4 linked regions of the Homo sapiens genome follow. The protein of the gene in region 1 purifies or fractionates together with the protein of each later gene. This does not show direct contact. Each region holds a gene or a part of one and is shown on either strand. Other genes may lie near its edges. The genes, in order: PRICKLE3, METTL18, PRDM10 and EPB41L5.

Evidence for each region.
Region 2: the proteins of PRICKLE3 (region 1) and METTL18 purify together in Homo sapiens (affinity purification with mass spectrometry; 2 studies listed by BioGRID and IntAct, with this or other methods). This does not show direct contact.
Region 3: the proteins of PRICKLE3 (region 1) and PRDM10 purify together in Homo sapiens (affinity purification with mass spectrometry; 2 studies listed by BioGRID and IntAct, with this or other methods). This does not show direct contact.
Region 4: the proteins of PRICKLE3 (region 1) and EPB41L5 purify together in Homo sapiens (affinity purification with mass spectrometry; 2 studies listed by BioGRID and IntAct, with this or other methods). This does not show direct contact.

The regions. Positions count from the first base shown.
Region 1 is NC_000023.11:49,176,347-49,183,387, forward strand, and holds part of PRICKLE3 (prickle planar cell polarity protein 3), read right to left. Parts: intron 3,461-7,041; coding exon 3,347-3,460; intron 3,043-3,346; coding exon 2,905-3,042; intron 2,130-2,904; coding exon 1,926-2,129; intron 1,834-1,925; coding exon 1,647-1,833; intron 857-1,646; coding exon 557-856; intron 1-556. UniProt on the Homo sapiens protein: Involved in the planar cell polarity (PCP) pathway that is essential for the polarization of epithelial cells during morphogenetic processes, including gastrulation and neurulation.
Region 2 is NC_000001.11:169,792,020-169,798,764, forward strand, and holds METTL18 (histidine protein methyltransferase 1 homolog), read right to left. Parts: upstream 2,889-6,745; 5' UTR 2,796-2,888; exon of another isoform or gene 2,058-2,795; intron 1,879-2,057; 5' UTR 1,677-1,878; coding exon 558-1,676; 3' UTR 510-557; downstream 1-509. Other genes in the region: FIRRM (FIGNL1-interacting regulator of recombination and mitosis), read left to right, coding at 3,084-3,194. UniProt on the Homo sapiens protein: Protein-L-histidine N-tele-methyltransferase that specifically monomethylates RPL3, thereby regulating translation elongation.
Region 3 is NC_000011.10:129,899,176-129,901,841, reverse strand, and holds the end of PRDM10 (PR domain zinc finger protein 10), read left to right. Parts: 3' UTR 1-2,131; downstream 2,132-2,666.
Region 4 is NC_000002.12:120,016,047-120,023,087, forward strand, and holds part of EPB41L5 (band 4.1-like protein 5), read left to right. Parts: intron 1-2,883; exon of another isoform or gene 2,884-2,902; intron 2,903-3,030; 5' UTR 3,031-3,038; coding exon 3,039-3,218; exon of another isoform or gene 3,219-3,222; intron 3,223-7,041. UniProt on the Homo sapiens protein: Plays a role in the formation and organization of tight junctions during the establishment of polarity in epithelial cells.

The sequences.
Region 1 (7,041 bases):
TCTTTCCTCCACTAAGACTGGGAAAGTGGGGGCAGGGGTCGGAGAATGGCAGGGAGGTGGGAAGTCTGGGAAGTGTGAGGCCTGGAGCAGGCTCTGGGTGTTGAGAGGGTTGGAAGGAAGAACACGGAGCAAGATGGGACTGGTGTGGGGGGCGTGGCCAGGGCACCCGGGGTGGCTTCGGATGGAAGAGGTGTGGCATAGGCTGGAGTAGATTTGGTTTGCAATAAAAGGGGTGGGGCCTGACTGCAGAGGATGAAGGGTGACCGGCTGGAGAAGAGGAAGAGGAACTTGGGGTCAAGCAGAGACAAGTTGAGGTAGGGGACCAGCCCTGTATTGACAGGGTGGAACCAGGGTTCATGAGGCGGGTGTAGTTTGGGATGGAAACCAGGCCTGGACTGGTGTGGGGAAGGAGGATGAGCTGAGAAATGGGCGGGGCCCAGGGATACAGCAGGTGAAGGGCCTGGGCTAGTCAAGAAGGAAGGGCCAGGGCTGAGGCAGGGGCAAGGACATAGGGGTGACTGGGCTGTGGCTGGGTGTGGCTAGAGGGTTAGCTCACCTGGCGCTAACTCTGTGCTGGTGCCTTTGGTGGTGGTCTCTGATGCCCCCTTCACAGCAGAGAAAGAGGCTGTGGAGGCTGCAAGTGGGGCTGTGACAGGGCCGGCACTCCAGCTGCGGCGGCTCGGCCCTGGAGCTGTGGGCTCGGACCCAAGGCTGCAGGCTCGAGAGCAGAAGATTAGGCCTCGGCGTGGCAGGAATGGGCGGCCCAGCAGGGCCCGCCCACAGCGACTACAGCAGAAGCAGCGGTCTGAGGCATGCCAGTGCTGGCCCTCGTAAGCCATCTGGCCTTGGTCCAGGCCTGTGGGGAACGACGAGGGGGAAAAACTGAGGCAGAACCCCCAGGCGTAACCCCACCCCTCGTGAACGAGTCCCTTCTCAAGAAGAGGTGGGGAATCCGAGGCAGGGCACCCCTGGGTGCCTTCCTCCCTCCTCCAGAATGGGGCCCTTTTGGAGAAAGCAGGAAACAGGTTTTGGTTCTCTCCTGGAGACTGGCTGGTGAACCTCTCTCTCACTCCTCCCTTTCTTTCCCAGGGTGCTCTCTCCCAGAGCGGGGTGGGCATTGGACTCTAAGATTCGGGCCAGGCTTAGACATTAGGGGGTGGCTCCAAGTGGAAGGAGAATGGAAAGCTGGGCCTGAAGAGGAGGCCTGGCTGGTGGGGGCAGGGCTTAGCAGGTGGGGAGTGGCCCTGTTGAGAAAGGAGTGGTTCTCAGAGGATAGGGTGTAGCTAGAAGCTAGGCCTGACTTAGGCTGATACAGGAGAGTGGAGGAGAACGGGGCACAGCTTGGGGTGGTAGAGGCTAGGAGTAGGGCGAGCCCTGGGGCTGGAATTAGAGCACCCTCTGGAGGTGGGTGTAGACATGTGGTGGTGGCCTAGCATTGTGTTAGGTGGGGTTTAGAAAGCATGGCATAGTGGGGACATTGGGAGTGGGACTTGCAACCAAGCGTACAGGTCTATAGTGTTGGGGCTGGACAAAGTACAGGGCACAATGGAGGATGGGGCCTGGAGGACAGGAGGAGTCCTGGTGGGGTAGGACTGTGGCCCAGCTGTCCATCCATCCCTCTGTCCAGTCCCACAGCATTCACCCACCGATGTGCTCCCCACAGCCATCACAGTACTCCGCGTGGCGGGCCTCGTAGCAGGCGCAGCAGTGGGGGCGGCTCTGACGCATGACATAGCGCTGCCCTCCTAGTGAAGCTTCACACTCAAAGCAGCAGAAGTGATCCATGTGCCAGTGGCGGCCCTCAGCCTCCGTGCACTCAGGGGAGAAGATGATCTGGAGGGCGCAGGCCATCTGTGGCTGTCAGATGAGCCTGCTCCTGGCCCTGCCCACCCTCAACTCCCACCCCTGGGCAGGGAGGCCCAAACCTCGTCACAGGCTTGGCAGCGTGGACGCAGGCATTCGGCATGGTGACGCCCGCAGTAGACCTTGCCAACATGGTAGAAGTAGATGAGGTCAACCAGCAGTTCCTGGCACGTGGTACACACGAAGCACTGTGGGTGCCAGCAGGCACCCAGGCCTGCACGGCTGGCAAACACTGCGATGTCCCCACCTCCAATCTGCTTTCCGCACTGCCATGAGACAAGCACCAAGATGGTTACCATCACTGTCACCAAGATGGTCAGATGGATGGGGTCAGCCAAAGTATGTTACACTTGGGCCTTTCCCACAGTGAAACTTTGTGATCAGCCCCACCCATGGGGTAACTTTGACACAGGCCCTGCCTATACCAGGGATGGGGTTGGGCGGTACCTTAGAGACTGACCCTGCTCATGAGGGAAGCCGTAGAGACAGGCCCTACCCATGGTGGGTGGCCTTATAGGCAAGCCTCCCTCATCAGGGGTGGGGAAGACAGACAGGCCAGGCCTAGTGGGGGAAACCACAGAGATAGTCTCCACCCACCGGGACCTTAGCAATAGATCTCACCTAACAGTAGGATCTAAGGACAGGCCCTGCTTACCACTGGGCCCTGCAGACAGGCCCTGCCACTGTGGGTCAGCTCTTGAGGACAAGTTCTGACCACAGGAGGACCAAAGAGATAGCCCATGCCCCATGTCCACTGCACAGACGGGGAGAAAAACACACTAAGGCCTCCTTACAGACAAACCCCACACGACAGTGGGATTGATGGGACAGGTCCCTGTCCACCAGGGGTTGCCTTAGAGACAGTCCCTGCCCAACAGTGAGATGTGAGGAACAGACCCCGCCCACAAGAGGGGACCCTAGAGACACCTCACTGGGGCTTAAGTGGCAGGCCTCATCTTCCCAGTGCTTGGAAGATGTGTCCTGCTCCCCAGGGCTTGGAGCAGAGGCACTGCTCACTCGCTGAGGCCCTCCACGGCTCACCTCCTCACAGATGGCCCCAGTGATGGTCACCGGGAAGATGCGCACGATGCCACGCCCCAGATTCTCCCGCTTCCGCTGCTGGCTAAAGGCTCGGAGCTCTTTCTTTTCCTCCTCTTCCAGTGCTGTGCAGTACTGTGCCTGGGAGGAGAAGGCATCTCCCAGGCTCCTCCCTTGATGCCTGTCCCTGCCCCTCTTCCAGACTTCATCCATGCCCCGAAAGTTTACTTCTAGGTCTTTCTATAGATGGTGCCTCCTGCCTGAAGTAACCACCTCTTCTTCCAAGGCCCAGCTGTGGTTTTGCCAAGGAATGTCCCCTGATGACCCCTGCCTGTCTGGACCACTCACCTCAGATCAGCTCACCTTTCCTCCTCTGACCCTGCCCTGCATTGGCCCAGGCTGTGTGCTGTGCCTGGCATGCCCTTCCTGTCTTCTCTCTCCTCACCTCACTGTCGTGTGGGGGCAGCTGGTGCAGCAGCTGCTTGATCCTGTATTTCTCCCCAGGACTGTTGACGTAGGGGACCTTGTCCTCTGGGAGGCAGCTGAAAAATTGATATACCTGGGAGGACATAGGAGTGGGAGAAAACAACTGAAATGAGAGGTGAGTTGGGATGCAGTGAGATGGCGGGTCCCCATTTCTCAGAAAATGAAAGGCATTAGGAGGGACCTTCTGACTCCCTCATCTCTCCTTCCTAAAGGCGGATCATTTCCCTCAGCTCCCAGCTCCCAAACACGCTGAGGGTTCCTGCATGTATTGACCTCACTTCCTCCTCCAGCTGCTGATCACCTTTTTTTTTTTTTTTTTTTTTTGAGACGGAATCTTTCTCTGTTGCCCAAGCTGGAGTGGCGCGATCTAGGCTCACTGCAACCTCCGCCTCCTGGGTTCAAGCGATTCTCCTGCCTCAGCCTCCTGAGTAGCTGGGATTACAGGCATACCACTATGCCCAGCTAATTTTTTATTTTTAGTAGAGACAGGGTTTCACCATGTTGGCCAGGCTGGTCTCGAACTCCTGACCTCAAGTGATCCGCCTGCCTTGGCCTCCCAAAGTGCTGGGATTACAGGTGTGAGCCACCGCGCCCAGTCTACTGATCCACTTTTCTTTTTCCCTTTACAGGAAAATTCCTCAAAAAGTTATGAGCACTTGTGTTCACTCCACTTCCTGTCCTTCCAATCTCTCTTGAGCCTACTTGAGGCAGGCTTCCGCTCCCATCCCTCTTCCAAAGCTGTCAAGGTCATCCATGACTTCCCCATTGTTAAAATCATTGTTCAGGTCTCAGTCGTCATCAGACTTGATGATGGTAGCACTGCACCGAGCTGACCACTCTCTCTTCCTGGAAACACTTTCTTCCCTTGGCTTCCAGGACACCACACAGTCCAGGTTTTCCTTCCACCTTATTGGCTGCTCCTTCTTTGTCCCTGTTTTGGCTCCTCCTCAACTAGCTGACCCCTAAATGCAGGAGGATCCTAGGACTCAGCTCTTGGTCCTCTTGCCTCTGTCTACATTCAATTTCTTGGGAATTACATTCAACCTTATGGCTGTAAATATCATCTACTTGGCTGGCTAATGTGTCACCTCCAGCCTGTGACACATAATGACAAACACATACGTCCAGCTCTGTAACTTATCCCTTGAGTTCCAGGCAATGTGGCTATTTAGATGTCTAACAGGCATCTCAAACTCCAGATGGCCACAACCAAACTTATGCTCTTACCCCTCAAACTGCTCCTGTCTTGGCCTCTCCCACATCAGTTAATCTACCTATCCTCAGGGTCATCTTTCACTCCTCTTTCTCCCACCCCCACAAGCAAATCCTCTGAGTGCTACTTCCAAAATATAGGCTGGGTGCTGTGGATCACACCTGTAATCCCAGCACTTTAGGAGGCCCAGAGGGGAAGATAGCTTGAGCCCAGGAGTCCAAGACCACCCTGGGCAACATGGCAAAACCCCATCTCTACAAAAAATACAAAAATCATCCAGGCGTGATGATGCGTGCCTGTAGTCCCAGCTACTTGGGAGGCTGAGGTGGGAGGATCACTTGAGCTCAGGAAGTTGAGGCTGCAGTGAGCTGTGATTGAGCCACTGCACTCAAACCTGGGAGACAGAGTGAGACCCCCCCCCATATATATATATGTGTGTGTGTATATATATATATATATATACACGTATAATTATTATACGTATATTATTTACGTAAATTATATACGTAAAATAATTATTTTATATATATGTATATAGATGTATACATATGTGTATATATATGTGTATATATACGTATATATGTGTATATATATACGTATATGTGTATATATATACACGTATATATACGTATATATATACGCGTGTATCTATATACGTATATATATATGTGTATATATATATACACACACATATATATATATTAAATAATTATTTATTAAACGGAATTTTGCTCTTGTTGCCCAGGCTGCAGTGCAATGGCATGATCTGGGCTCACCGAAACCTCCGCCTCCCGGGTTCAAGCGCTTCTCCTGCTTCAGCCTTCCAAGTAGCTGGGATTACAGGCATGTGCCACCACGCCTGGCTAATTTTTTTGTATTTTTAGTAGAGACGGGGTTTCTCCATGTTGGTCAGGCTGGTCTCAAACTCCCGACCTCAGGCGATCTGCCTGCCTAGGCTTCCCAAAGTGGTGGGATTACAGGCGTGAACCACTGCACCCAGCCTATTTTTTTTTTTTTTGAGACAGGGTCTTGCTCTGTCGCCCAGGCTGGAGTGCAGTGGTGCAATCTCAGCTCACTGCAACCTCTGCCTCCTGGGTTCAAGGAATTCTTGTGGCTCAGCCTCCCGAGTAGCTGGGATTACAGACATTTGCCACCATGCCAGACTAATTTTTGTATTTTTAGTAGAGATGGGGTTTCACTATGTTGGCCAGGCTGGTCTCAAACTCCTGACCTCAAGTGATCCACTCGCCTCGGCCTCCCAAAGTGCTGGGATTACAGGTGTGAGCCACCATGCCGGCCTTTCTGTCTGTCTGTCTGTCTCTCTCTCCATATATATATAACTCCTTGCACTGCCAGTGCCATCATCATCAGGTTCCTCACTGGTCTCCTGATTCCACCCTTATTCCTCCAGGCTGTCTTCTGCTGACAACCCTCTTGCGACTTCCCTTCATTCACAGGCAAAGCCAAAGTCCTCTCCATAGCCCCTGCCACATCTCTGACCTCATCTCCAGCTGGTCTCCCCCTTGCTCACTCTGCGCCAGCAGCACTGGCCTTGCCATCCCTTACATATGCCAAGCACACGCCTGCCTCAGGGCCTTGGCATTAGCCATGCCCTTTGCCTGTGTGAATCGCTGTAACCTTAGATGTCTGCATGGCTCACTTCTCACCTCCTTTCGGGCAGCTCAACCATTAAATTCTCACAGAGGCTTATTCTGGGCACCCTATTTACAATTCTAGCATCTCTCTCCTTCCCTCTCTCTTTCTTCACCCCACCTTCCTTGCTTTTTAATTCCATAGCCCTTACACCATCTGACATATATTTACAGGTTTGCTTATTGGGTGTTCCTCCTTTCCAGAATCTACCCTCTGCCTGGGCAGATTTTTTTTTTTTTTTTTTTGAGAAGTATCACTCTGTTGCCCAGGCTGGAGTGCAGTGGCACGATCTCAGCTCACTGCAACCTCCGCTTCCTGGGTTCAAACAATTCTCCTGCCTCAGCCTCCTGAGTAGCTAGGATTACAGGTGTGCACCACCACACCTGGCTAATTTTTGTACTTTTAGTAGAGACGGGGTTTTGCCATGTTGGCCAGGTTGGTCTCAAACTCCTGACCTCAAGTAATCCGCCCGCCTCAGCCTCCCGAAGTGCTGGGATTACAGGCGTGAGCCACCGTGCCCGTGGGCAGATATGTTATTTTGTGTTTTGCTCATTGCTGTGTCCTCAGTGCCTAGAACAGTGTCTCACATGCAGTAGGTGCCCCATAACTATGTGTTGAATGAGTCAATCAATGAAGTCATGTGGTGAATGAAGTGCTGGGAGGGTAGAATAGGGAGTGGGGCCACGCATGGTGGCTTGCTCTTGTAATCCCAGCACTTTGGGAGGCCGAGGCAGGATCACTTGAGCCCAGGAGTTCAACATCAGCCTGGGCAACATAGGGAGACCCTG
Region 2 (6,745 bases), on another chromosome or scaffold:
TACAAGTTCTCTGTATTACTTTTATACTCTGTCACAGATTCCCTTTGTTTCCTCATCTCCATGTGAATTTAGTTAAATTCTCAGCATTCTGATCCTTACTATACAAGGTAAATGAATATAAAAACAAAACGAAACAAAAACCTCTTCCTATTTACATAAGGCCCCAACCTAATATTTAGTGATATATATTAATGTGAACAAGGAACTAACGAAGACTGGGAAGAAATTCACAGACTTGAGAGAAGAAATGGCAGGATTTCCTGGGAACAATTTCATGTAACGTCAAAGGTGGTAAAAGGTCAAATAGAATGAAGATGGAGAATACCGGATTTTCTTACAAAATGATTTCCCAGGAGATCTCATCAAATGCACGAGGATACCTTCTCAGTTTCACCTAGTGAGTAAAAGACTGGTAACATAGCTCACTTACAATTTGGATAAACAAAACTAAACAAACAACATCAAAATTTCAGAAAAAATAATAGCAAAACAGAAATCAAACACTCAAATTTTTGGTCCTTCTGTTTATTTCATTTTGGATACTCAGTGAATGTTAATTAACCAGGAAACTTAAAAGTTATTTCAATTATGAACCTCTTCAATCCTTCATCAATTATTTTGAGTATTCTGGTCTTAAAAACATCTCTTTCTTCTACAAACTTCTGAAAGAGATGAACACCTCCACCTACACCAAAATAATGTGCTTTGCTGGCCAAAAGTACACGTCCATTTTTACTTAACAGTCTAAGGAAAGTCTGGTGCAAATTACTATAATAATCTGGGTTGTAAATGGTTTCTGAGGTGAGAATGAGATCATATTTTACAAAAAGTTTTTCACTACTTAGTACAAGCTTACAAAACTCAGACCACTCACCAGAAAAAAATCGGCATTTATATAGTTGTGTTACTTTTGGTTTCCTGCATCTTTTCACATCTGGCTCATTTACATCATTTTCTTCATCTTCCAAAGTGGAGTTAGCTACTACATTAGGTAAGGTTACTTCATCAATCACCATACTGTTATAATCTTGAAAGTGAATTTCTTTGGACCCTCCCTTGAATGCAGTTATACCTAGTAAACCTGATCCACAACCAAGATCCAAGACTTTTTTCCCAGCAAATTTCACTTTGGCCTTTGTGAAATAAGCCAGGAGGTCAAAGGTACATTCCCAGATTTTTAAGCCTCCCTCATAAACACCTGTAATCAGATCAGAGTGAGAAGAAAAGCTTTTTGAAACTATGTTTTCTCCAGGGAAGTTCTCTTTCAACAAGATGGTTTTCACTACTGATAACTTAACATGCTGGAAACCTGGTAATGTTTCTATGACTTTATTTTCTAACATCTTCTTTAAATCTTTAGGCATAGCATGCTCTTTGGCAGCTCTCAAGGAGGGCTGTTTTCCATGTGGCTCCAAGTTCCTTGAACTGCTGGCTGCACTGAGTGGACTGTCTGTGTCTTGAGAGGGAGCTGCATTTTCCATTGACTTATGTTCCCACAAGTGATCCTGAGGCAAGTCAAATTGTTCTGCAGAACATTTTCTGTCCCTCTCTTCTCCTTTTTGACTTTCTGAGACTGACAGCTCTTTTGAGGAATCCAGGGTCAAAGCTCCATCTCTAATGGGTGTTAATTCATTTTCCAGATGGTCTTCTATAGTGAAATTAAACTGAAAGGTCATCCTCTTATTAAATGCACACAATCTTTAAATTCAGATTCTTCAACTTCTGGATAGAATTTGATGATACACACAAATCTGCCTCAATTATTCAATTAGTTTTGTTGGGCCCAATTTCTCTTTAGCAGCTTATACATGGTAACAAATATTTAGAGATATTTCCAAATGACTTTTTAGACGTCTTTGGTCCTCTTTCCAAGCAGCTCTGGAAAGAAAAAAAAAAAAAAAAGAAAGAAAATGATGATTAAAGCAAAATGGCACATTTCACTAAAGTGTAATATTAAACAGCCACCCCCACCCCTCCCTGTCCCACCATACAGCTGCTTTTTCTTAAAAAGTTGTGGGGAAGAGAGAGAGATAAGAGATTTGGACACTCATACACACCTTAAGGGTTCCAAAGTGGGAGAAGAAAATCAACTATAAAAACAAACAGAAGAACAACAGCAACCACCACCACTACCACCTGGACAAACATAAAGTCCAAGATATTCAGACAGGACAGCCTAGCTACTTGCTGTCTTTCAGCTGTCTTGATTTGTGTCCAACCATATTCACCCCCTAAGCTTCCAGAATAACTTCACTTCTGTCTTTTACAGAAGAGGTGCAGTATTTTATTTTGGTAAGTCAGCGTCCCTTTAAAAACATGCATAGGTATGGCCTGGTGTGTGTAAATTCATCCAAGACTTCACTCCAAACATTTAGTCGAGAACAGCAGCCCTAAGTGTATAGAAGTGGGGGTAATTTGGCAATAATTAGTAAAGACTAATTCGGTGGCAGAGCAAACGCAAACTAGGGCACTGCAGTAGTTTGGAGAGACCTGTAGAAATAAGAAGCAACTTTATTGAGAATCTTCTATCTACTGCGCTAGACACTATACCATCTGCCTCAATTTTCACAGTTCTGGCAAGTGGGATCTTTGTTCCCTTTATACAAGATTTACAATTTGGGGGAGAGGCGGGTCACCCAGTCCCGCGGCTAGGAACGCGCCTCTTTCCTCTCCCATCACGCTGCAAGGCTTGGAGTCACTTCCGGCTGCAGGTCCCGGAACAAATCCGACCCCAGAAGTGGGGACTTCTGGCCCTCACCTCCCCATTTGAATGTAATGTTTACAGTGATCCAGACCTGGGGATGCTTGCTTCCCGACGTGTCCTGGGATCGCGCTTCTGAAAAAGCTCACCTCACAACGCCTCCTCCGGACCTAAATCGCGCACCAGTGAGTCGAGTCCTCCAGGGGCTAGAGAAGCCCGACTTTCTTTCCGGCCTTGAGGGACCCGGGCTCACCAAGAAACCAGCCGCCCTCCTCTCTATGGTTTTGGAGCCGGCGGAGAGCGCGCAAGGGTTGGCGGGACTGCGAGTTTCCGGTCTGGGCTTTGGCGGGTCTGGTTTGAAGCTCTCCTGTTTGACGAAAGTATGTCTCAGGAAGGTGCGGTCCCAGCTAGCGCGGTTCCCCTGGAAGAATTAAGTAGCTGGCCAGAGGAGCTATGCCGCCGGGAACTGCCGTCCGTCCTGCCCCGACTCCTCATATCCTTCCTTGGTTGTCACTTCTACCTAGAGAAGGGTGTGGGCGGGTCGCGAACCTTTCTCTTCTGTCCCTTCAGACCCACCGCCAGGCTGGGTTATATTACCGCGGCCTGAACCCCCTCTTTTCTTTGTCAGTGAGTGGGATGAAAAGTGAGGGACTGGAGGGGAAGCGACAACCGTGGTAGATTTAAGTAAGGCTTTGGCCCTGGAAAGCCTCGCGGACGTGTTCTGACCCAAGGTTTTAGCAGTGGATGTGGCGTTTTCTTCCATTCCTTCTTTCAGTTTTTCTGTACTCGTTGCTTGCAATTAAGTGTAAATACTTTTGCTAGTGGATAATGGGGGAGGCAAGGACTGAGACCTGCGGTATGACGATAGCTCTGGCTCTTAATAGTTTGAGGTAAAGCGAGATACTCTGAGCTTTTGTCTCCCGTAAAAAGGGTGGTGAATATGAATAAGGGCTTTCTTAGCGTTATAAGAATTAAAGGGCATAGTTCTGTGGTGTGAAATCTTTAAAAGATGTTCAGTAAATAAAAATGATTTTCCTCCTTCCCCTCTCAGACCTCTTTTTCTTCTTTCTTTCTTTTTTTTTGACAAGTTCTCACTCCTCTCACCCAGGCTGGAGTCTTTCTGAAAGAGTTCTTCCGCTTGTTGTTGGCTTTCAACTGTTGGATTTGAGGCGCTTAGCGCCTTCTTCGTCCGGGTGCAGCACATTCTTGATTGGTCTCATGCCTTTGTGGTTGTAAATGTGCCTGGAATCCTAGCCTTTCATGGTAAACCATATGTATATGTATCTTTTTCACAACATTTGAGCCCAGCTTTATACAATTACACTCAAAAGAAAAAAAGTAACCTTCACTTGAGAGAATCTCAATACTGCACAAATATTGTGCAGCTAAAGCCCTATGTAATCACATAGAAGTCATTCACCTAGGCATTAGCAAAATCTCAGAAGGTGCCAAAGCCCCCTTTTTTAGTTTTTGTGTAGGTACAGAACTGCCGTCTTCAAGGAGTTTCAACTTGAAAACAAATAGCCACCCTCAAAACATTCAAAAACACTTAAACTGCGTGCATAATGTGTGTGAGACATGGTGTTAGGCTTTGGGAGAACAGAGACACGGAACGTGATTCCTCTTCTTCCCCACAAGCTTATAGAGAGACTTCATTAAGTTGAAAGTCAACATTCCCACCTAGCTTTGCACTTCAAACGACATATTCAAAAAAGCCCAAACTTCCTCTAGTTTTCTTCATCTGAGTAAATGGTTTCACAAACTGAAACCTTGAATCCTCTCTGTCTCACACACCCGATCAGTAAGTTCTATTGTTTCTGATTCCAAACTATGTCTTGAATCAATCCGTTTATCTCCATCCTCATTGCTACCACTCTGATTCCAAACCCTTATCACCTCTCACTTGGAGTATTAATAGTTTCCTTGTTTCTACTCATAATTCATTATTCCAAAAAAGTTAAGAGGGGAAAAACATAGATCTCGTCATTTCCCTTTTTAAACCACTTTACCTTCAAGGTTCCAGGTGATCTAAGCCTTGCCCTTCTCTCATACCTAGTTAATTAACTACACTCTGTTCATGAATACATTAGGCTCACCTACCTCAAGATCTTTTTGCTCAGCCTGATTTGTTCTCTCAGCCTTTTGCATATTTCATGTTTATGTCTTGGCCCAAATGTCACTTCCTTAGAGGGGCTTTTTCAGAGCCTTCAATCTTAGGCAGTTCCCCCAAACGCAGTCTTACACTTGTATCACATTGGCCTGTTCAGTTTTCTAAAAAGCACATTACCATTAAAAGAAATGCTCTTGTTTGCTTTGTATATTTTCCACTTCTACACATTATGTTGCAAAGTTCATAAAGGCAGGATGTTGATTTTCTTCACAGCGTTACCCTCAGCACCTAGAACAGTGCCTGACACATAGTAAGCATTCATTAAAGGGCTAAAAATATTTCATGTTTTAAAAATACTTGGGAGTCTAATTAGACAATACTTTTTTTCAGCTTAATGGTAGTATTTTAGCTTCACTATTTTAACAAATGAAAAATTTGCAATAAATCTACAATGCCATTACCCCCCAAAATCTTTTTCATGTTTTGCATTTTACGTATTATTTTCCAGGCCTTACCTGCATGTCTGCATAATCATAACTGACTAATTTTGGAACAGCTGGTAATTATTTGAGCTTTACTGAAATTTTTTCATGAGGCCAATTCTACCCTACTGAACTCAAATTTGAGTTAATGATGACCTCATTTTGATTGCTGCTGTAAAAAATAAGATTTCGGAAGAGGAATGAATTCTTGTATTACTGTGGTAGGACTATGGGTTTTTTTTTGTTTGTTTGTTTGTTTTGAGACGGAGTCTCACCCTGTCACCCAGGCTGGAGTGCAGTGGTGCGATCTCAGCTCACAGCAGCCAGGTTCAAGTGATTCTCCTTCCTCAGCCTCCCGAGTAGCTGAGATTACAGGCACGTGCCACCATGCCCGGCTAATTTTTTGTATCTTTAGTAGAGATGGTTTCACCATGTTGGCCAGGCTGGTCTCGAACTCCTGACCTCGTGATCCGCCTGCCTCAGCCTCCCAAAGTGCTGGGACTACAGGCGTGAGCCACCGTGCCCGGCCGGGTTATTCATTTTTCTTATTAACATTCTTTGATGATTCTTATGGTGTTGTTACAGTAAAACATTTCTAACAATTATTCTAACAATTATTCTTGATGGTGTATATGAAGAATTTATTGTCGTGTATTTGTAAGCTGCTATGTGCAGAAGAATTTCAGTCAAATAAAGTTGGTAAGATAGGTATGTAAGTAATATGAAAAAAGATAGAAGGTGATGAGTGACTTAGGTATAAATTAAGTACAATAGAAATGTTGAGGAAAGAAAAATTTCTTGTAATAGAAATCGGAAGTACAAACTGGGCATGGTGGTGTGCATCTCTAATCCCAGCTCCTTGAGAGGCTGGTATGGGAGGATCACTTTAGCCCAGGAGCTTGAGGCTGCAGTGAGGTGTGATCATGTCACCGCACTCCATCCTGGGTGACAGCAAGACCGTCTCTCTTTTTTTTTTTTTTTGAGACGGAGTCTCGCCTATGCTGGAGTGCAATGGCGCGATCTTGGCTCACTGCAACCTCTGCCTCCCAGTTTCAAGTGATTCTCCTGCCTCAGCCTCCTGAGCAGCTGGGATTACAGGTGTGCGCCACCATGCCCAGCTAATTATTTTGTATTTTAAGTAGAGACGGGTTCTCACCATACTGGCCAGGCTGGTCTTCAACTCCTGACCTCTTGTTCGCCCATCTAGGTCTCCCAAAGTGCTGGGATTACAGGTGTGAGCCACCCCACTTGGCCCCGAGCGAGACCCTCTCTCTAAAAAAAAATAAATAAATAAATCATAAACCTGTGGATTATTGTAGCATTGTTTCTCATCTGTCAAAAATATTTCATGACTATGCATAGTTTGAAAAGGCAAGTTTGTCCCTGGGCAATTTTCAAAATATTTCTTTAATGTGTTTTCACAATACTGTTTACCTAATAAATCTTAAGTTT
Region 3 (2,666 bases), on another chromosome or scaffold:
AGTAATTTAACAAAGGGAGCCTGCTGAATAACAAAATTAAAATGATGAAACAAAAGTTTGACAGTGATATTCTGAAGCAAAAACTGTCATCTAAATTTTTCTTGCTGATTTTTTTTAACTTCCCTATTTTAGAAAACTATTGTTGGGCTGTTGGTAGTGCTTTCCACAGATGCTGGTCCTCAGTGGATTAGGTCAGAAGCTCATGTTCTGATAGTTCTTCATTATTTCACAAAGGTGGACAACCTGAAAGAGAAAAGGCTGCTTGATGTCAGCAGAATCTAAACCCCTACATTAAAGCTTTGCCTCCCATTCTGTGGTTGTGGTGGTGGTAAGAAGGAGATATTGGTACCAAGAAAAATTTCCAAAACTATTGAGAGAGAGAGAGAGAAAGTATTGAAATTTTGTTCTGCCTTGCAGGATCCATTTATCATTCATTGGTAAAGGATATATTCCTTGTTCTTACCAAGTGTACATTTAACTCTTGCTGACATGTTCAGTGTATTTTATTACTTTTAATGCTGTCTTAAAATGAACATTCTTTAAAGTTGGACAGGAAGGTGGCATTTCTTATTTATTAACATTTTTAACTTTAAACATATTGTGACTCATCTAGACCTTTTAATAAGACGGTCAACTTCACACTTAGGGAAAAAATTAAAATGTGATGGCCACTTCTAATAATTCAGGTAGTTATAAGGGATCTGGAAGAAATCCAGTCTTTATGAATATACTATTAGTTGGGCATTAAAAAATCAGTATATATTTTAACTTTTTGTGACATGCTAACACATTTTCAGAATAATTATTGCATAGTAGAATTTATTACTCCAGAACAGAAAGACCTTACTTCATTTCAAATGAAGTTAATTAATTTACATTTCTGGGTAAAAACTGGTTCTATAAATTAAGTAGAGTAGCTTCTTTATGATAAAGACAATTTTCTGAAAAGTGAACAATTCTGTTAAAAGAACTTTATTGATGTGTAGATTTCGCACTTTATTTCTGAGACTGCGTTCATGTAGTTGTTCCCCAATGTTTGAGTACTAAGAGAACTTGAGAAAATTACTTCATAAACATATGGAAACTGAAAATGGACTCTCTTTGTGACAAAGATATTCAACAGAAAATATTGACCCTGCATTGCAAAACACAGGTTCGGGTTCCCTAAGTCCCACAGTGTAATGATTACAAATATCCTAGTGTCCGGTCTAGAAAGACTTTCTAGGAGAAGACTAGTGGAATTTTCTAAAGGTTCAGTTTTAGCTTTTATAACTTAAATTTGGCCCTGTTACGTTCTTTTTAATTTGAACCATAAGGTATCTCCCCTCCCTTCAGGAATAACTTATTGGAAAACTGAAAAGAATCACTGAATGGAATGTTCATTTTATGGCAGTTGTTTTAAGTTTTAAAATACACAGAGGAAAATATTGTGGAAGGACCTCTTTGTTGCTTTCCCTTCTAAGTTGTCTTCTTCTTCTTCTTCTTCTTCTTCTTCTTTGGTCCTTAAGTGAAATAAAGACTCTAAAACTAATTTGTATATTATCAGCCAGAGATGCGGATGGCAGTCGAGCCAAATCGCATGGCTTTCAGATCAGGTATTCTGCACATTCATTCCAAGGTCATAGATTTTTAAAAGGACCTGGATTTGAAGAGATGGCAAATGATGAGCCATCAGAAAACTTAATTTGGAAAACATGTATGTAGCCAGTGTGGATATTGTGGCCTCTCTCAAGACACATTGACACTGTAGACTTCATTCAGTCCAGTGTGAGTATTTTGGAGTAGGTTGGATGTAGATTTTGTTTTTATCATTGATTTGTACCGACAGAAATAGACATTTCATCATGTAAAATTCCTGTTATTCTGGAAAAACCTATTGTTTTGATCTTCTTGTTTTCTGACTTGGAAGTATCCTTTCAAAAAAACTCTTAAGATATCTAGGTCTAAAAAGCACTTCATGAGATGCTAAAGCTGACCCACTGGTTGAAAATGTTGACCCTATCCTGTTATTTAAATGTGAACATTTATTGTACATTCAGTGAGTTATAGTGTTAATAGTCTTGTGCTATGCAGCAGGTGTAAAAATTAATAAATATATTTTTTAATAAACATGTTTGTATGTGTGAAGCTACAAGAGCTATTTTTTTTTCTTTGAAGAATTGCAACTTTTGGTTTCCAGCGTGGCATACAGGAAGCTTGGAAGTTGTCCCTCCATCCTAGCAATAAGTAAGAAGCTGAGCAAATGGAAAGATCAACATCTCTCCTTAGATCCATCAGAAAGTTGAGCCCACAGGACAAACTGCTGTCCCCAAAATTGGAAAGACAAACAGGCAAATACAGAGAATCATAGCTTATTGAACAGAAACCCGTGAGAAAAAAATCCACGATCAATAACCTCTATGAGAACCAGCGCCAGGGTAGGAAAACTTGAACTATATTTGATGAATTGCTGCAGGCTCAGCGTGGAGAAATCTGAGAGGTTAAAAACTCCAGGGAACTCAGTCACTGGAGGGGGGGTCAAGGGAGACCCACACTTTTGTGAGTTTTATCCCCAGGAGCTTGACTAGGTTCTCACAGTGAAATTTGGAGAAAAATTCCCTCATGCTTCCAGCAGAGGAAGGGGAGAAGGAACCATTTTGAAATACTCCAGAGCTTTCTGATCTTTC
Region 4 (7,041 bases), on another chromosome or scaffold:
TCCTACAACTTAAAGCACATGTGTGATTTTTTTTCTTTAGGTTATCCTTCCAGAAATAGAACTGTTGAGTAAGGAATATGCATGTTAAAATTTCTAGTATTGGTCCGGCGAGGTGGCTTACGCCTGTAATCCTAGCACTTTGGGAGGCCGAGGCGGGCGGATCACCTGAGGTCAGAAGTTTGAGACCAGCCTGGCCAACATGGTGAAACCCAGTATCTACTAAAAGCACAAAAATTAGCTGGGCGTGGTGGCTGGTACCTGTAATCCCTGCTACTCAGGAGGCCAAGGCAAGAGAATCTCTTGAACCCGGCAGGTGGAGGTTGCAGTGAGCCGAGATCGCGCCATTGCACTGCAACCTGGGGGACTAGGTTGAGACTGTCTCAAAAAAAAAAAGAATTAAAAAAATATTAATAGCATGGTCAAGTCTCCCTCCAAAAAAGGCCAACGTAGGAGGATTATTTTTTCTCACATTCTTTTTTACACTATCTTGAGTCTTTAAATGACAGACAATATCTTATTTTTTTTCATTTGGATTTTCTTGGATACTGTTAAAGGTGTTCGTTTTTATGAACATCTTTTAAATTATCTTTTAGGACTTTTTCGTATCTTGCTCTTTGTTCTTTTTTTGATGTAGAGTCTCAGTCTCACTCAGGTTGGAGTGCACTGGTGGGATATCATAAAATGTTTCTTGGGAGATATTGGTGGAGTTAAAAGGAATATGTAGGGATTCTGTGACACAGGATTTTAGAAATCTGGGATAACAAGTACAGTCTTAGGCAGCTGAAATGAGACTGGATAGCAAGTTCCAAAGGGAGAAATACCTGGAAAAAAAAATCTGGAGAAAGAGACTGGGACCAGGTATTATATATGAGTGTTTGGAACACTGGAAAGTTATCTAACTAAAATTTTAGTTATTTCCTTGGGATTAGTTTACCTAATTACGCAAGAGTATACATGTGTAAAATGTGTAGGCTAATCTTCAGTGTATAGACATTTTAATATGGTACTATCTTAAAAATCGGATTTTATCGGGTTTATAAATAAATCTAGTTGAAAAAGTCATTTTATCTGAAGGCTTCTCTTGAAAAACAGCATTCTCCTGAATTCTTTTGCTCCCTCTCCTGAGGCAATCATTTTCACATTTTAAATCAAATGCTCTTACTGCTAATTGTTGATTTTTAAATTCTAGTAATGACCTGTTGGCTTGCTGTTACGCATCATGAGGAATTAGCTCTTTCCATATCTGTATCCCCTACCTCTTATTATGTACCTCCTGTCTGTTGTGGTTATTGTTCGATCAGTATTTAGTATTTGACATTGAAATCATTAGCAGCTGAGTCATGTAGTGTATTGTGATTTACTTTTCCTTTTCTGCACAGCTTCTTGTTTTCTTTGGAATTAATAGTCTTTTTGGCTTATTTGTTGGCTTATGTGTACTTAAACTCTCTTTGTTGTGCAAATGAAACACATGAGGATAGCAAAGTGACTTTGATTTTGTGTTTCCATTTAGTGTGCTATGTTTTAAAACCTGTTTTAACTGTTTTGATTAACATTAATGTTCTTTATAGAGTTAAGGAAAAAAGCATTAAAGTACTTTGACATTAAAAAGATTTATGTTAAGTAGTTATTTAAAATCTGTATGTAATAGAATATTTGACAAAACTTAGGAAATTTGAATTATATCTGTATTTTAGCTGAAATAGGTGATTGTTTTTGTGTTTTTATTATGAATGCTCAGAAAAGAAATGGAACTTCTCAGGATTTTTTTTGAGACAGAATCTCCCTCTGCCACCCGGGCTGGAGTGCAGTGAGGCATCTCAGCTCACTGCAAGCTCCGCCTCCCGGGTTCACGCCATTCTCCTGCCTCAGCCTCCCCAGTAGCCGGGACTACAGGCACCCGCCACCACACCCGGCCAATTTTTTTTTTTTTTTTGAGACGGAGTCTTGCTCTGTCGCCCAGGCTGGAGTACCGTGGCGCCATCTCGGCTCACTGCAAGCTCCACCTCCCGGGTTCATGCCATTCTCCTGCCTCAGCCTCCCGGTAGCTGGGACTACAGGCGCCTGCTACCACGCCCGGCTAATTTTTTTTTGTATTTTTTTTTAGTAGAGACGGGGTTTCACCATGTTAGCCAGGATGGTCTCGATCTCCTGACCTCGTGATCCACCTGCCTTGGCCTCCCAAAGTGCTAGAATTACAGCCGTGAGCCACCGCGCCCGGCCACTTCTCAGAATTTTTATGATCATCAAAGGATACCTTAGTGTCTGACATCATCTTGGGATATACAAGATGTTGTACATATAATTTATCTATTTAGAAGACCTGATGAACTTCATGAATGTTTGCCTTCTCCTGCCAAATCAGTTCCTGATAAAATGGTCCGGTAAATTTAGAAAGCTCCAAACTGTGGCTGTGTCTTATACATACAAGTCTTTTAAAACTTTGAATTAAAGTAACCAGCTTTTTAAATTAATTAATTTACTTTTTAATTGACAAAAATTGTGTATATTTATCATTTATAATATGTCTTGAAATATTTATGAAAAGCCAGTTTTAATGATTTTTTTTTTCAAATTTACTTGACCAGGAGCCCTTTTTGTTTTTTATTTACTTATTTTTTGAGACAGGGTCTTGCTCTGTTGCCTGAGCTGGAATGCAGTGGCGCAATCCCAGCTCACTGCCGCTTTGACTGCCTGGGGTCAAGTGATCCTTCTGCCTCACAGCCCCTCAAGTAGCTGGGACCACAGGCATGCACCACCACACCTGGCTAATTTTATTTTTAGTAGTGATTAGTTCTCACTATGTTGCCCAGGCTGGTCTTGAACTCCTGGGCTCTAGCAGTCCTTCTGCCTAGGCCTCCCGAAGTGTTGAGATTGCAGGCGTGAGTCACTGCACCCAGCCCAGGTGTCCTTTTTAGTAGCATTTCTACTAATGTTCACAGGACTTGACTAAATAATGCCATTTGACTGACTGCAAGTTGTGGAGAATCTCATTTTTTTCCTGATGCCATCTTTTTCTCTCTGTTTTTATAGTGACAAAAATGCTGAGTTTCTTCCGTAGAACACTAGGGCGTCGGTCTATGCGTAAACATGCAGAGAAGGAACGACTCCGAGAAGCACAACGCGCCGCCACACATATTCCTGCAGCTGGAGATTCTAAGTCCATCATCACGTGTCGGGTGTCCCTTCTGGATGGTACTGATGTTAGTGTGGACTTGCCAGTAAGTAGGTCTTGCTGAGCTCCAAATTCTGTTTGCGATTACTGTCTTTGTTTGTTTGTTTAAAAGCTTTGTATTGGTAACTTCTGGATGGAAATAAGTAAAGGTATTATGGGTTAGTATAGATCAGGCACTGTAACATTCAGGTACATGGATCAGATAACCGTAGACCAAAAGTACTTGGATTGGTGGTATTTCTCTTTGGAATTAGTGGCGATTACCTGAAACATTTAAATGACAGGGCAGTTATTGGCATGAGTCTGTTTCATGTGTCTTTCTATGTGTTCTTTGTGATGGCAGCACATGATGTAGTCTAGTGGATTTCTGACAATCCTTGTTGAACCATTATTAAAACGTTGTGAATCTTTGAGAATAACAACACTTAAATGTGTACTGTAAGACTTTTAGCTTCTATGCACTTCTGTATTTTTTAAAACTCTCCTTACTTTCTTCTAAATAAATATTTCCCCACAATTTGGTTTACTTGCAGACATTAATGAGGTGAAGTGAGAAAAAGGACTTTCTTCATACCCCTCAGCTCTGACTGCCTGTCTCTTTGCTCCTGAAGTATTTTGCATTGTAGGTTTTTCATACACTGTAGTCTTTATCTCAAGACAGGCTGTTGTAATTATATTTGCATTTTGGATAGATTTTTTTTTTTTCAGAAATATATAATCATAACTCAGTGTGAAACAATCTGACATGTTTGAAAGGGGTTAGCTTATTTTTTTACAGGACTTTTTGGGTGGAGGAGGGGAAGAAAAGGTTGGCTTTTTGGTTTTGGGCAGTTGAATATTTTTCTGAGTTGCTTGCTAATACCAAATCTCTTTCTCATGTCTTTGTTCTGCATTCAAAGACTTAACGGTAAATTACATCATTTGATGTGAGCTTCATAGGATATTCCTTAATGTCTTTTCTCCCCACAGACTTTTTAGTACACACTCATCTACCCAAAATTCAATTTAAAAAGTCTCTTTGGGCAAAGTGATAGCCTACGTGCTGCTGTAATACATAATTGAATAAGCTCGGGAAGACCTTAAACTCACCAAGTGAGAGTATAAGGAATTGGAGAGTTTGTTTAAATGGATGTTCTGATTAACTTAATAATTTGGAATGTATTAGATATGTACATTATACATTTTAAAATATTAGAATATGATAAAATTAATCAAAGACTCAGGATTTCTTGAAGTGTTTTGAAGTCATCATTACGTGTATTTGTTATCTTTGTCTATAAGAATGTATATTTTTAGGGTTTTTGATTCTGGACAACTTGAAAGCATCTAAATTTTCTTCCTGTAAGTGCTTCTTGAGGGTTTATCAGACATTCCAACATGAGATATTTTGTGAGGATAGTTTTCATACTCATTTCTTATTTGATAGGAATCTTAAGAGTTTTGTTTACTATTTCATTAAAATATCATTGGATATGTGGTGAAAAGCCTGAGATTGCTGTGTAAGAGACTGGAAAGAAATTTCTTATTACCTAATGTTTGAAGTATGAAGTTTCAGGGTTGTTGATGGACAAGCTGATAGTAGGAGAGTAGAATTTGTAAAAAAAAAAAAAAGAGGTTTTTAAAAACGCAGTGCAGTATGGAGGAGAAACAACACTAGCTTTTAAAGTGGTGGAACAAATGGCTAGTTACTGATCTGGAATGGTTTCCTAAACTTTGTATGCTTAGCTGGGTGTATGTGATGCTTGATCAAATTTATAAACTAGCTGGTCTCTCATGGGGACAATTGTAGTGAAACAGCTGGAGATATAGATTGGACTTTTTGTGAAACAAGAACAGTTGTCAGCCAGGTGCAGTGGCTTATGCCTGTAATCCCAGCACTTTGGGAGGCTGAGGCAGACAGAACCCTTAGGCCAGGAGTTCGAGACCAGCCTGGCCAACATGGTGAAACCCATCTGTACTAAAAATACAAAAATTAACCGGGCGTGGTGGCATGCGCCTGTAGTCCCAGCTACTCAGGAGGCTGAGGCAGGAGAATCACTTGAACCTGGGAGGTGGAGATTGCAGTGAGCTGAGATCGCGCCACTGCACTCCAGTCTGGGTGACAGCAAGACTCCGTCTCAAAAAAAAAGAAAAAGGAACAATTGGGCCAGGTGCAGTGGCTCACGCCGGTAATCGCAGCACTTTGGGAGGCCGAGGTGGGCGGATCACAAGGTCAGGAGTTTGAGACCAGTCTGGCCAACATAGTGAAACCCCGTCTCTACTAAAAATACAAAATAGCTGGGTGTGGTGGCGGACGCCTGTAATCCCAGCTACTTGGGAGGCTGAGGCAGGAGAATCGCTTGAACCCAGGAGGCAGAGGTTGCAGCGAGCTGAATTCGCACCACTGCACTCCAGCCCGGGTGACAGTGCGAGACTCCATCTCAAAAAAAAGGAACAACTGTCTTTCCAATTCTGTAGGTGAAATCGTACTTATTAACCTAACTCTAGGTACGTGCATGGATATAAAGTGGTCATTGGCCTGTTTTACTAAATTGTCACTAAAGGAAAAAATAGTCCAGAAGAATAATAATTTCTAAAAAAGAAGAAATGATTTCCCCTTTTCAGATTTATTTTCTCAACCAGTCTACTGTGATTCTGGGAGAAGATTTAGAATTGATTTTAGAAATTGAATGAAGCACATACTCATTTCCCATTACGATAAGGGTCTAGGATAAGGGTCACTAGTGATTATAGTTAGCCGTCTTCTTCCTTTAAAGAAAAAAAATTAAATAGGGTGAGAAGGCCTTTCAGTGAATGACAAAGGTATCAGGTAGAAATTTCTATCTAATTTTTAAGTTTTTTCTTTGAAAATACGACAGTAAACTTGTTTAAGAGCTTAGTATTGGTAAATAGCTTTAATGTAAAACCCTTATAAGTTTTAAATTGGGAAATGTTTGGTCAATTAACCAATAGATAACAATTTTTTTTCCTTTTTTTAAATTGTACTTTAAGTTCTGGGATACATGTGCAGAACGTGCAGGTTTATTACATAGGTATACACGTGCCATCGTGGTTTGCTGTACACATCAACCCGTCATCTACATTAGGTATTTCTCCTAATACTATCCCTCCCCTAACCCCCCACCCCCCGACAGGCCCTGGTGTGTGATGTTCTCCTCCCTGTGTCTGTGTGTTCTCATTGTTCAGCTCCCACTTATGAGTGAGAACATGTGGTGTTTGGTTTTCTGTTCCTGTGTTAGTTTGCTGAGAATGATGGTTTCCAGCTTCATCTGTGTCCCTGCAAAGGACGTGAACTCATCCTTTTTATGGCTGCATAGTATTCCATGGGGTATATGTGCCACATTTTCTTTATCCAGTCTATCATTGATGGGCATTTGGGTTGGTTCCAAGTCTTTGCTATTGTGAATAGTGCTGCAGTAATCATACATGTGCATGTGTCTTTACAGTAAGATGATTTATAATTCTTTGGGTATATACCCAGTAATGGAATTGCTGAGTCAGGTGATATTTCTGGTTCTAGATCCTTGAGGAATTGCCACACTGTCTTCCACAATGGTTGAACTAATTTACACTCCCACTAACAGTGTAAAAGCATTCCTATTTCTCCACATCCTCTCCAGCACCTGTTGTTTCCTGACTTTATTGATGGCCATTCTAACTGGCATGAGATGGTATCTCATTGTGATTTTGATTTGCATTTCTCTAATGGCCAGTGATGATGAGCTTTTTTTCATATGTTTGTTGACTGCATAAATGTCTTTTTTTGAGAAGTGTCCATTCATATCCTTCACCCACTTTTTGATGGGGTTGTTTGTTTTTTTCTTGTAAATTTGTTTAAGTTCCTTGTAGATTCTGGATATTAGCCCTTT